Linked DNA regions of Homo sapiens: region 1 is linked to region 2. Evidence: fine-mapped expression QTL. Tissue or cell type: tibial artery. Region 2 holds a variant in brackets; the other region holds the start of a gene. All regions are shown on one strand. Distances are from middle to middle.

Evidence for each region. PIP is the estimated chance that this variant, and not a neighbour inherited with it, causes the effect.
Region 1: CLMN starts here. The variant in region 2 is fine-mapped to the expression of CLMN in tibial artery (GTEx, PIP 0.91).

The regions. Positions count from the first base shown.
Region 1 is chr14:95,318,388-95,320,887 of GRCh38, forward strand. CLMN (calmin) reads right to left here and starts at 1,521. Exons shown (of 13, transcript NM_024734.4): 1 at 1,324-1,521. The coding sequence starts at 1,405. RefSeq lists enhancers at 392-511, 532-611 and a silencer at 1,242-1,501.
Region 2 is chr14:95,291,315-95,294,158 of GRCh38, forward strand. All of the region lies in intron 1 of CLMN (calmin), which reads right to left. Among named protein-coding and RNA genes, the nearest start is that of CLMN, 27 kb to the right of the region's middle. The variant G/A (reference allele first, on the strand shown) is at 1,490.

The DNA of each region.
Region 1 (2,500 bases), 27 kb after region 2:
GCAAACTCAGTTTCCAGTGTCCACCCCAGGAGGCTCCCCAGTCCTTTTGAGGTCACCTCTGCCGGCACTGTCCTTGCCCAACCTAGGGGTGGGGCAGACCCTGGGCTCCCAGGAAACATTCAATCAGGTGTAATGTTTAAACTTGACTGCTCGGCCATCCCCCAGCGCTGGGGCTCCCTACCCTATAACAGTAAAGTCGCTGCCCTGGCTGGGGGAGGGCACCCACAGCCCCATCGCCTCTCTGCCCAGGCCTCCCAGCTCGCTCCTAGCCACTCCTAACCTTGAACCCTCTAGAAACCCAAGCCAGCAGGGGAAGCAGCTACAGAAACTTCACCTGCACAGGTCAATGTGGGTGAAGAAGGGCCGGAAGTGGTGTTCTGTCTAGTTCTGCAAAGCCCATATATGAAAAAAAAGAAGCTGGAGATACAGTTCCATGAAGAACACCTGTCTGTTGGGTGGATAGGTTGTGGAGGGGAAATTATGGGTGACTTTTTTCCTTCAAATATTTTTGTGCTTTCTAAGTTTCCACATTGAATAAATTCTTTTGAAAGAGAAACACACTTCATGTGTGGCACCGCCATACCCAGCCGCTCTCCACCACTGGAGTTTCTCTTTCACCTCTTCTCAGCTACCTCCCAGGTAGAAGCCTTGGTCCCAGTGTCCTGTGCCCAGGCAGGGTCGGAGTTGGGGGCCAGCGTGGGGGAAGGGTGGGGCTCTCGCCCTCTCCCCAGTTAGAGTCCTGATCCTGCAGGGGAGGGGCAGCTCCCTAAGCAAAGTGGCCGCTGGAGTTGGGTGCTTGCCTGACCCCACCGATCCGATCCGCACCCCTGGCCCCGCTTTCCCCAACTCACCCCCTGAAGCGCCGCCCACCATTCAATTCCCCTTGCCTCGAAGGTACTTAGGAAGTGCGCGAACTCACACACACACACACACACACACACACACACACACACAGAGTCGCACTGTCTCCTCCCCTCCCTAACCTGGGCCACCGCCCCCAAGAGCCCACGTACAAACTTCTCCAAACTCGCAGCGGTGACTGGAGGGGGTGGTGACGTCCCCCTAATGAAAATGCGAGCCCTCGCCCCACAACACACACACGTGTGGCGCCCCACCCCCTGGGCAACTGTAAACCTGGCCGCGGCTGGCCGCCCTGGGGCTTGGGGGCGGGTATCCAACCCCAGCCTCCCACCTCGAGGCAAGTGACAGGAACAACGAGCGGCCGGCGAGCGGGGGCGGCGCGGGGGAGTTGCCAAGTGTCGGAGCGGCGCCCCGGGCCCCCCGAGCGCCCAGCCATCCCGGGGCGAGCCTGGGCTGCGTTACCTTGCAGGTTCTGCACTCGGATGTCGCTAATCTGCCCGATGAGCTCCTCGCGTTGGAACCAGTCCCACTCGTGTGCAGCCATGAAGCGCGGGCGGGAGAGCCCGGGCCAGCGCGGCGCGGGCGGCGGGCGCGGAGAGCCTGGCTGGCGGGCGCGCGAGCGGCACGCACCCGGCGAGGGCGCCGCGGAGCTGGAGTCGCGGCGGGCGCGGGCGGGGCGCGGGCGCGGGCGGGGCGGGGCGGGGCGGGGAGGGGCGGGCGGCGCGGTCGGGGCCGCCCCCGCCGCGGGCTGGCGCGAGCGAGCGCGGGGCGGCGGGTGCGGGGCGGCGGGCTCGCTCTCACTCCCCCGTGCGGGGGCGGGGGCCCTGAGGAGCGAGGGGCGAGGGGCGAGGGGCGGGGCGGGGCGGGGCAGGGGCGGGAGGCTGGGTCAGGCCAGCTTGTGTTTTTTTTCTTTCCGGGGTGTTTGTAGGTTGGATTGTTTGGTTACAAACCGGCTGTGATGAGGCGCGGGTCCCGGCCCCCAGATTGTGATGTCTCAGGGGGCGGTGGGCCGGGTGACGCAACTGGGGGTGGGCCCGTGGGTCCCAGTACCTGGTCCAGGAGGCAGCGTCTCCCTCCCGTCCGGGATAAGACACCCCCTCCGCGGGTCCCCTGTCCACTCTGGAGAGGCAGCCCCCACTTGGAGGGACCAGGACCCGAGCCCTGCCCATCCCCGAATCCTGGGAGCCCTGCGTGGGGAGTGTCGAGGGCCTGGGTCGGGGGGCAAACTAGTGTGGAGGTAAAGTTGTGGGAGTCTCCAAAGTGCGGGGGGGCTGTGAAAGAAGGGCCTTCTTCGTTGGTTTAGATACTAGGAGCCTTTTCCGGTCCAGTAATGTGACTCCAGCTTCTAGGAAGGAACAAGAAGCAGGCCAACTCCTAGGAGCTGGGGTACGCTGTGGGGTCTCTGGCCACTGAGTCTCCAAGTGACCCTCTGTGGGGTCACTGGAAATTAGTGAAAATGCCAGGACAGAACTTCCTGTGGAGACTACTGAAAATGCCAGGACAGGCCTTCCGGTCCCCTCCCTCCCCACCTCCACTGTTGAACTCTAGAGAATTCCAGGATCTTATCCTGTTTGGTGCCCACCATGTGGTTTACACTCCTTAAAAGTGAGACCCTACAGTTACCGAATTTGCCCAAGGT
Region 2 (2,844 bases):
ATGGCCTGTAAACAGATTTATCCCGCCCACATGGAGCCGCATCCCTGCAGCTCCTGCGTCTCGGGGCTGGCTAATACCTGGGACCGCATGCTGCCTGTGCCAAAAAAACCCAGACACACATCCTCCTGGAAATATCATTGGCCACAGGAGCTGTTTCTCATCCCCAGAGCTCCAGGTTGCAGGTGCGGCTGGGGATTATCACTTCTGCAAATAAACACCAAGCCCAGGTGAAAGCTCCAGGAGAGACGGAGTCAGACTGGCCCCAGCAAACCTCGCTGGGGAATGGGGAGCCCTGTCCTCCTCCTTAAAAGTGAGCTGAGCGTACGTTATTCAGAGCCCCATAGATAAATTCCCATAGCCTGTGACCCAATATTTCCACATCTAGGTATCTGTCCTCTAAGATCACCAGAAATGGGGACAAGAATGAACGTGCAAGGAGGTTCAGCAGGAGGTACCAAAAAGCATGCAAAGCTGGAGAAGCCGTGGATGGCCAACAGCAGTTAAGTCAGCCACAGAAAGAATGCGCATGCAGCCCCAAAAATGCTGGTTACCCAACATTTAAAACATGGGAAAATTCTGAGGTCAGAACACAAAGTGAAAAAAAATAGGATCCAAAATTATATACATGGTGGACTGAAATTGCTAATGGCAATGACAAGCATTTATTGAGAACTGACTGTGTTCCTGGCACTGTGCCAAGGGTTGACGTGTTCCCACGTCCTCATCTGGCCTCACTGCAAGCCCGAGAGGAAGGTCTGACTTTTGGGCCTATTTCACAGATAGGGGGACTGAGGCATGGAGAGAATTCAGCGGCTCACTCCACACAACTACACGTCCTTAACACCCTCTACACCATTTATGTTAAAACTCGACACATTCACAGGGAAAAAGCCCAAAAAGAAAATGCATCAAAAGGTAAATGGTAGTCATTTCTGGGTGGCATCATTTGGAACATTTTGTATTTTTCCATATTTTATACAGTGGACATGTACTACTTTTAAAACCAGAAACTATGCTATTTTTAAAAGTCTCCAGAGATTTCATAAGCTCCCCTAGGATGGTTTAAAATAACAACACAAACAAACACCAGTAATGAGATCTGCCCCCCAAGGGTCCCCCACCCCCACCCCCACCCCCACCTCCACCCCCTGCATCTTGGGTCACAGGCTCCATGGCCCTCCAGGAGGTGTAAGTAAAAGCCTTACTGTCTCCCTTATTGATTTTTGTCCTTCCTCTAAGAAATGTCCTTGAATTTAAATAACTTCAGGTCAAAAGCCTAAGCAAGCTCTGCCCTGCACACTCACGGGGACCGACGGTACCCTCTGACTTCACCTGCTCTGCAGATTCCCAGGCTGGTGGTAGGGGAGGGTGGGGACCATTATGCTTGTGCCCCCACTAAAAACACCAGCTTTCCCACGAGCTAGGATTTGCTGGGAGCTGGAGAGAAATCAGCATAGCCTGATTAAATTAACATGAACCAGCTCAGGGA[G/A]GGCGAGATGAAGCTCCAAAAGCGCAGGCCTGTGAGAGCACGGGTGCCCGGTGTGGGTCTGCTCCTCCAGGGACATGGCTAATTGCACCCCAGCACATCCAACCGGCCACAAACATGATCATCCAGGGGTAACCACGGAGCAGGAGAAAGAAGTGGGTAAGTGACACAGAGCAGAATGCAATTTTGCACATAGCCGTCCATGGCCATGAGAACCACTAGGAATGTATTTGGGAGATGGTTAGAAATAAAAAAATTAAAATGACAATAACTATGTCAGGGTAAATGAGATGGAAAATCCCTGCCCTCCCCTCCCTTCCCTCCTTCCCTCCCTCCTTCCCTCCCTTCTTCCCTCCTTCCCTCTCTCCTTCCTTCCCTCCCTCCCTCCTTCTTTCCCCCCCTTCCTTCCCTCCCTCCTTCCTTCTTTTCCTCCCTCCCTCCTTCCTTCCCTCCCTCCTTCCCTCCCTCCCTCCTTCTTTTCCTCCCTCCCTCCTTCCTTCCCTCCCTCCTTCCCTCCCTCCCTCCTTCCTTCCTTCCCTCCCTCCCTCCTTCTTTTCCTCCCTCCCTCCTTCCTTCCCTCCCTCCTTCCTTCCCTCCCTCCTTCCTTCCTTCCTTCTCTCAATACCTCCTTCCTCCCTTCCTCCCTATTTTCAAGTTTTCTCTGACTTGTTTTTAAATCAAATCAAATAACCATACATATCTTGAGGCCTCCCTAGGCAGTCTGTCAGCCTCTGATCTTCACTGTCATTCTCTATGGATTCAAGACCAGGAGAATGGGCTCTGTGCACCTGCTCCCAGCAGGCAGGAACGAGCTGCACAGACCCCAGCACTGGATAAGAAGGGCAGAGACATGTGGGTGTACTGCGCCCCCTGTCTCCCACCCACCCCCGCCCCGCAGCCCTCTCTGGCTTGTGAAATGGAAAAATAAATCTGAGGCAACAACACATCCCCTGGCTGAGCTGTCCTGTGAGGCTGAGAATGGGGTCCAGGCTCCTTCCTTTCCCAAGGGTCTCGGGACCATCACACAAACCTGCAGTCTCTAGAAACCAAGTCTGGTGTTGTTCTACGTGGTACGGAATGAGGCAACATGAAGTAGAAAACAAGGAAAAACTCCCTCCCACTCCCTCCTCAGTCTCTCACTTAGCGTTTTAGCTAAAACTTACCAAACGCCAGCAGGGAAGGTGCCAGCCCCACTGCCTGGCTGGAGGGTGACACCAAAGAGGAGGAGGAGGAGGAGGAGGCCAGAAGTCTGGCTGGAGGGCTTCCCCACTCCCCAGGCGAACCTCTTCCTACCTACCTCACCCTAAACAGCCAGGAGAGTGCGTGCAGTCAGCCTGCCTGCCAAAGAATGGGTGGGG